2 linked regions of the Homo sapiens genome follow. The protein of the gene in region 1 interacts with the protein of each later gene in a pairwise test. Each region holds a gene or a part of one and is shown in the gene's direction. Other genes may lie near its edges.

Evidence for each region.
Region 2: the proteins of STC2 (region 1) and CARHSP1 interact in a two-hybrid assay, tested with the Homo sapiens proteins (one large-scale study listed by BioGRID and IntAct).

What each region holds. Positions count from the first base shown.
Region 1 is NC_000005.10:173,313,915-173,318,414, reverse strand, and holds the end of STC2 (stanniocalcin-2 precursor), read left to right. Parts: intron 1-165; coding exon 166-568; 3' UTR 569-3,692; downstream 3,693-4,500. UniProt on the Homo sapiens protein: Has an anti-hypocalcemic action on calcium and phosphate homeostasis.
Region 2 is NC_000016.10:8,858,771-8,862,578, reverse strand, and holds part of CARHSP1 (calcium-regulated heat-stable protein 1), read left to right. Parts: intron 1-844; exon of another isoform or gene 845-937; intron 938-2,005; exon of another isoform or gene 2,006-2,474; intron 2,475-3,243; 5' UTR 3,244-3,250; coding exon 3,251-3,408; intron 3,409-3,808. UniProt on the Homo sapiens protein: Binds mRNA and regulates the stability of target mRNA. Binds single-stranded DNA (in vitro).

The sequences.
Region 1 (4,500 bases):
TGAAGTCATTTGAGAGAGATCTTCCACCGAACCCAAGACAAGCACTGGCCATGCCTCCTTCCCAGCATTGCCCCTGCCCTCTGTGGTCCATTCGGGACTTGCTCCATTCCCAGCCTCTCTCTCTCTCTCTCTCTCTCTCTCTCTCTCTTTGCTTTCAATCTTTAGACCCTACGTGGACCTCGTGAACTTGCTGCTGACCTGTGGGGAGGAGGTGAAGGAGGCCATCACCCACAGCGTGCAGGTTCAGTGTGAGCAGAACTGGGGAAGCCTGTGCTCCATCTTGAGCTTCTGCACCTCGGCCATCCAGAAGCCTCCCACGGCGCCCCCCGAGCGCCAGCCCCAGGTGGACAGAACCAAGCTCTCCAGGGCCCACCACGGGGAAGCAGGACATCACCTCCCAGAGCCCAGCAGTAGGGAGACTGGCCGAGGTGCCAAGGGTGAGCGAGGTAGCAAGAGCCACCCAAACGCCCATGCCCGAGGCAGAGTCGGGGGCCTTGGGGCTCAGGGACCTTCCGGAAGCAGCGAGTGGGAAGACGAACAGTCTGAGTATTCTGATATCCGGAGGTGAAATGAAAGGCCTGGCCACGAAATCTTTCCTCCACGCCGTCCATTTTCTTATCTATGGACATTCCAAAACATTTACCATTAGAGAGGGGGGATGTCACACGCAGGATTCTGTGGGGACTGTGGACTTCATCGAGGTGTGTGTTCGCGGAACGGACAGGTGAGATGGAGACCCCTGGGGCCGTGGGGTCTCAGGGGTGCCTGGTGAATTCTGCACTTACACGTACTCAAGGGAGCGCGCCCGCGTTATCCTCGTACCTTTGTCTTCTTTCCATCTGTGGAGTCAGTGGGTGTCGGCCGCTCTGTTGTGGGGGAGGTGAACCAGGGAGGGGCAGGGCAAGGCAGGGCCCCCAGAGCTGGGCCACACAGTGGGTGCTGGGCCTCGCCCCGAAGCTTCTGGTGCAGCAGCCTCTGGTGCTGTCTCCGCGGAAGTCAGGGCGGCTGGATTCCAGGACAGGAGTGAATGTAAAAATAAATATCGCTTAGAATGCAGGAGAAGGGTGGAGAGGAGGCAGGGGCCGAGGGGGTGCTTGGTGCCAAACTGAAATTCAGTTTCTTGTGTGGGGCCTTGCGGTTCAGAGCTCTTGGCGAGGGTGGAGGGAGGAGTGTCATTTCTATGTGTAATTTCTGAGCCATTGTACTGTCTGGGCTGGGGGGGACACTGTCCAAGGGAGTGGCCCCTATGAGTTTATATTTTAACCACTGCTTCAAATCTCGATTTCACTTTTTTTATTTATCCAGTTATATCTACATATCTGTCATCTAAATAAATGGCTTTCAAACAAAGCAACTGGGTCATTAAAACCAGCTCAAAGGGGGTTTAAAAAAAAAAAACCAGCCCATCCTTTGAGGCTGATTTTTCTTTTTTTTAAGTTCTATTTTAAAAGCTATCAAACAGCGACATAGCCATACATCTGACTGCCTGACATGGACTCCTGCCCACTTGGGGGAAACCTTATACCCAGAGGAAAATACACACCTGGGGAGTACATTTGACAAATTTCCCTTAGGATTTCGTTATCTCACCTTGACCCTCAGCCAAGATTGGTAAAGCTGCGTCCTGGCGATTCCAGGAGACCCAGCTGGAAACCTGGCTTCTCCATGTGAGGGGATGGGAAAGGAAAGAAGAGAATGAAGACTACTTAGTAATTCCCATCAGGAAATGCTGACCTTTTACATAAAATCAAGGAGACTGCTGAAAATCTCTAAGGGACAGGATTTTCCAGATCCTAATTGGAAATTTAGCAATAAGGAGAGGAGTCCAAGGGGACAAATAAAGGCAGAGAGAAGAGACAGAACTAAAAATACGAGGAAAGGAGAGTGAGGATTTTCATTAAAAGTCTCAGCAGTGGGTTTCTTGGGTTATTTAAAACATCACCTAAATAGGCCTTTTCTTCCTAATTGGCCATCAAATTAAAGCCTATCCTTTCTCAAGCAGGAGCTGGTATTGTAGGGAGTGGCCGGGTATTCTGGGCTGGGCTCTTCTGGAGTAGGGGGTCAGCAAACATTGTCTGCAAAGGGCCAGATACTGAATCCAGTACTTTCAGTTTGGCGAGCCGTGAGGTCTCTGTCGAAACTACTCAACTCTGCCGTCCTAGCACAAAAGCAGCCATAGACAACACACAAACGAGAGGGCTTGGCTCCCTTCCAGGAAGATTTATTTAACAGGCTCCCAGCTGAATTTCACTCACAGGACACAGTTTACTGATCTCTGTTCTAGTGAGTGGGTCAAAAAGCATATGCATCCTTATCCGTCAACTCATCAGCTCTTCCTCAAGGCAACCTGAGGCCAGACACCAAGAAACCAAGCGTATCTGCTCTAAAATGACTTGTTCCTGGGGAATGCCTTCAACCAAAACACAGCTAGTATTTCTATGCCCCAAATCCAATCCCAGTCTTTCATGATCCATGCCGGCGGTTGGGTGGGGAGGGGAATCATTGGTTGGGGGAAGGGAGGAAACCCCACCTCCAGCCCCCGCCACCGGGCTCCCTGGGCACCCAGCAAGATCTGGGGCTGCAGAGAACAGAAGAGCTGGTGCACTTAATCCAGCTCTGCCCTTGGGGGGAGGAGGACCTGTGTGTCAGGCTCTGCCATGGGAACGAGTGTAAACCGTGGCTGTCTCCTGCAGTGAGCCACCGCGGCAGGCACGTTGACTGTTTTACTGACATCACTCAAAAGCTAAAGCAATAACATTCTCCTGCGTTGCTGAGTCAGCTGTTCATTTGTCCGCCAGCTCCTGGACTGGATGTGTGAAAGGCATCACATTTCCATTTTCCTCCGTGTAAATGTTTTATGTGTTCGCCTACTGATCCCATTCGTTGCTTCTATTGTAAATATTTGTCATTTGTATTTATTATCTCTGTGTTTTCCCCCTAAGGCATAAAATGGTTTACTGTGTTCATTTGAACCCATTTACTGATCTCTGTTGTATATTTTTCATGCCACTGCTTTGTTTTCTCCTCAGAAGTCGGGTAGATAGCATTTCTATCCCATCCCTCACGTTATTGGAAGCATGCAACAGTATTTATTGCTCAGGGTCTTCTGCTTAAAACTGAGGAAGGTCCACATTCCTGCAAGCATTGATTGAGACATTTGCACAATCTAAAATGTAAGCAAAGTAGTCATTAAAAATACACCCTCTACTTGGGCTTTATACTGCATACAAATTTACTCATGAGCCTTCCTTTGAGGAAGGATGTGGATCTCCAAATAAAGATTTAGTGTTTATTTTGAGCTCTGCATCTTAACAAGATGATCTGAACACCTCTCCTTTGTATCAATAAATAGCCCTGTTATTCTGAAGTGAGAGGACCAAGTATAGTAAAATGCTGACATCTAAAACTAAATAAATAGAAAACACCAGGCCAGAACTATAGTCATACTCACACAAAGGGAGAAATTTAAACTCGAACCAAGCAAAAGGCTTCACGGAAATAGCATGGAAAAACAATGCTTCCAGTGGCCACTTCCTAAGGAGGAACAACCCCGTCTGATCTCAGAATTGGCACCACGTGAGCTTGCTAAGTGATAATATCTGTTTCTACTACGGATTTAGGCAACAGGACCTGTACATTGTCACATTGCATTATTTTTCTTCAAGCGTTAATAAAAGTTTTAAATAAATGGCTTCCACTTGAGTAGCGTCATTGTCTGAGAGGGTCATTGATGTCCGGTGCACAGGGGGACAGCTGTGAGCAAGTGGGCTTTTACGTCAAGAGAATCCTATGCTTCTGTGGATGTTCAGCCTACAGGGAAGGAAGTTAGATGAAGAGGACTACCCTAGGCTTCTCCGTCAGAGGGACCCTGTCCAAGCCCCTGCCTGAGTCACCCAGACAAGGAGGAGAATAAATTTCATGCAGTTGGCCTGGAAGTGCCACCCCCACACCCCATTAGGCAGGTCCTTAAGGCTCACTCTGGTCTCACCTTTGAGTCTCCCCTGTGAGTCTCCCCTGTGGCTTGGCCACCCCTTCTCTCAGACTGAGCCTGCAGCAGACACCACCAGCTTAACAGCTGAGTGGCCTGGCATATAGAGGGAAGCCCACTGCCTCCTCCCCAGCTCTTGCTCACGACAGCAGAACAGAGCTGGAGCCCCTGGTTTACGTGATCTGTGCCACTGTTGGTGTACCTACTATGTTCCAGGCACCACAGTAGGCATTTTGCATGCATTATTTCATCCTCATTACATCCCACAAATAATAGGTATTATCCTCATTCTACAGGTGAAGAAACTGAGGTACAGACTTGTCCCAAACTGTGTGGCTAGTGAGTGGGGTGGGGTCTGAACTCAAACTCAGATCAGGACTCCTAAGCCCACACACCTTCCCCTACTTCAGGCCTAGAATCTCCACTTTAAATTTATTTTTAAGTTAAACCAATCAGTGTTATGCCTATTTTACACGAGGCTTGGGGAAAGAATAATTATACTCTTACATTTA
Region 2 (3,808 bases), on another chromosome or scaffold:
CACCCTTCTCCCCCTATCCCCTTCTGTCTGTTTCTTTACAGCCCTTTTGGGATCTGTAATGATCTGGTTTATGTTTATTTAACTGTTTATTCTCTGGCTTCAAGTTCAGCCCTTTGTCTCTGGGGCCTTGAACAGGGCTCGGTATTGGGCACGTGTCTGTTGAGTGCCTTTATGATGACAATTATAACAACAGTCGTAGCTGACAATTACTGCTCACTGGACCTGGGCGGACAGTGTGCCCAGTGCTTAGTGTGTATTATTTTGTTTTCAGTTCAGCCTGATGGTGTGAAATCGGGACTATTATAATTCCCATTTTCCAGATGTGGAAACTGAGGCCCAGAGAGATTAAGTAACTTGTACAAGACCACACAGCAGGCAAGGGGTAGGATTAGAAGTCAGCTATGCTTCATTAGCCGGGCGTGATGGCGGGCACCTGTAACCCCTGCTACTTGGGAGGCTGAGGCAGGAGAATCACTTGAACCCAGAAGGTGGAGGTTGCAGTGAGCCGAGATTGTGCCATTGCACTCCAGCCTGGGCGACAGCAGGACTCCATCTCAAATTAAAAAAAAAAAAAAAAAAAAAAAAAAAAGTCAGCTATGCTTGACTCCAGGAGAAAGGAGGGAGGGAGACTTTGGATAGAACAAGGCAGGGCAGTGTCTCTAACTGTGGAGTTGCGAGGCCACTGCTCCCATCTGCTGTCCTGGGAGGCCTGGACAGGGCCCTCCCCTCCCAGGGCCAGCCTCTTTCCTGGAACTCTGGGCGTTGAACATTCTAGGACTCTATGACCTGTGCTGGTAGGTCATGCGGGGGCCCTGGCCCCCAGGCCAGCAGCTGGGGCCTTTTTGAGGTGGGGGCTCCCCGGACTCAGGAGTTCCTCCTTGGCCGCGGCTGTAGCTGAGAGAAGGGACAGGAGGTAGGATGCCACCTCCTCCAGAAGGCAAGCCAGCCACCAGCTTCCCAGCCCGACAGAACTGAGGCCCAACGGGAGAGTGCAGCAATGTCTGGGGAGGGGTTCTGACATTTCAGGGATGGGGCATCCCTTCTCCTCTGAGCAGTCGGGCCTGGTTCTTGGGTGGCTATGCTTGAAGGCGGTTCGGGGGGTGCGGTGGGATTTTTGGGTGATGTAGGTTGAAGACTCCTATAAATGAGGGGACTGGGGGGGCAAACTGAGGTTGAAGGTTGTGAGAGCTTCATTTCTTTCCATGAGCAGCTGGAAACCTGGATTTTGAGGAAACCCCCTGGGATGTTTAAGATAGTTCAGGCCGGGCATGGTGGTTCATGCCTGTAATCCTAGCACTTTGAGAGGAAGAGGTGGGAGAATCCGTTGAGCCCAGGAGTTTGAGATCAGCCTGGGCAACATAGTGATACCCTGTCTCTATAAAAAAAAAAAAAAAAAAAAAAAAAAAAAAAAAAAAAAAAATTAGGCATGGAGGTCAAGGCTACAGTGAACTGTGATTATGCCACTGCCCTCCAGCCTGGGTGACAGTGAGACACTGTCTCAAAAAAATAAAAGTTATTTATTTTTTTTTGAGACGGAGTCTCACTCTGTCACCCAGGCTGGAGTGCTGTGGTGTGATCTCGGCTCATTGCAACCCACAGCTCCCTGGTTCAAGCAATTCTCCAGCTTTGGCCTCCCGAGTAGCTGGGATTACAGGCACCCACCACCACGCCCAGCTAATTTTGTATTTTTAGTAGAGACTGGTTTTCACCATGTTGGCCAGGCTGGTCTCCAACTCCTGACCTCAGGTGATCCACCTGCCTCTGCCTCTCAAAGTGCTGGGATTACAGGTGTGAGCCACCGCACCTGGCCCATGCTTCAAATCTAAATTTGAAAACCCCATGGGACCTGAGTCAAACCGATCCAGGGCTGCTGCTGTCCCTCCCGGCTGTGTGGTGTTGAGTGGCGTCCTGAGTTAGTTAGGCTTCTCCCTACTTCATCTCGTACCCCCATCACCAGCCCTGCGCAGGTGCCAAGTGATGCCCACCCAGCTGCCCCACTTTGCAGATTCGGAAACTGAGCCCAGAGATGGGAAAGGACTTACCCAAGGGCCTCTGACTGCTGGACTGTTTCTCTTTCCCCTGAACCTCGAGCTGAGGCCACGTTAGAGCCGACACCTTCATATTCAATGTTCAGTGATTATTGTGTACAGCGAGTGTCCTGCTCTTGAAAAATTGTCAAAAGCACAGCAGCAGCTAGGGAATTCCCGCCCTCCAGCTGGATTTACCGGTACATACTAGGGGTCACAGAAGGAATTTGATTTCATAACAGCGTGGTGACCCGGGCTGTGTGGAAATTCACTGGGCCTGATGGAGCTGGATGCAGCCTTGGAAATTCTCCCTTTCCCTTTGGGCTCTCGCAGCAGGCCCCCCAGTCCTGGGTGCAGGCTTGTGACAGCTGCTCAGGGATCCAAACGTGGCGCTTGAGCTCTCTGCGACGTGTTCCACAGTTCCCTGGAGGCGGACACTGCGTGAGGGTCAGTTTTTGCCCCTGCTTCCCTGTGGTGTCTGGCTCCCAGCAGCGTCAGGGAGGGTCCGTGGAGTGGCTGAGTTTGGATCTAGGTGGTTGGCATTAAAATCTCCCTGGCTTTGGGTTTTCTTTTTTGAGACAGAGTCTTGCTCTGTAGCCCAGGCTGGAGTGCAGTGGTGCGATCTCAGCTCACTGGAACCTCCGCCTCCCAGGTTCAAGCAATTCTCATGCCTCAGCCTTCAAGTAGATGGGATTACAGGTGCCTGCCACCATGCCCAGCTAATTTTTGTATTCGTATTAGAGACTGGGTTTCCCCATGTTGGCCAGGCTAGTCTCGAACTCCTGACATTAAGTGATCCGCCTGCCTCGGCCTCCCAGAGTGCTGGGATTGCAGGTGTGAGCCACTGCGCCCGGCCCCTGGCTTTGGGTTTTCTGCTCACCTTCCTCCTTCCCTCCCACAAATACTATGTGTCCCAAATGTGCCGGGATCCATGCCTTGTGCTGGGGACACAGAGGGGACCGATGCCATCCTGGTCATGGGGGAGGATGTGGCATTTTCATGAAGAGCTATGATCGAGGGGGCCCCACGGTTGCTTCAGGAGCCCAGAGTAGGCATCTGACCCTGCCAGGCGTGCTCCCAGACAAGGTGACAATGGTGCTGAGGTGCCCGAGAGGAATGAGCCTCAGATACTGGACTGTCAGACGTGGACATGGGGGTAAGCACAGGGTCCCTACCTTGCAAGGCACGAGCCCCTGACAGCCTCTTCTCTTTCCAGGTCAGCCATGTCATCTGAGCCTCCCCCACCACCACAGCCCCCCACCCATCAAGCTTCAGTCGGGCTGCTGGACACCCCTCGGAGCCGTGAGCGCTCACCATCCCCTCTGCGGGGCAACGTGGTCCCAAGCCCACTGCCCACTCGCCGGACGAGGACCTTCTCGGCGTGAGTCTGGAGCAGGCTGGGGACGCGTTCTCAGATGGATCTCTTGCCTGAGGCCAGAGATTCACTGTGTCTCTGGCCATTTTTGGGCCTATGTCCCGGACTGCCAAATAGGCAGACCTGGGGCTGGGCCGTGGGCTGAGGGTGAGAAACTAGGAAGGCGCCTTGTAAATTCAGGGTACTGCCCAGCCCAGAAGAACCTGTTACCAGCTGGGAGTGGCAATGGGTGGGCAGTTGCTGGGGTCAGAATCGCTGGGCTTTAACCACACATGAGAGTCTGGTTCCCTGTGAGACTGTGAATTCTGCAGCTGCAAAATGGGCACAGCACCAGGGCTGCAAAGGACCCACATAATGCCTGGCAGATGCAGGTCTCAGGCCTTGCGAGTGGAGGATGCTTGTGTTA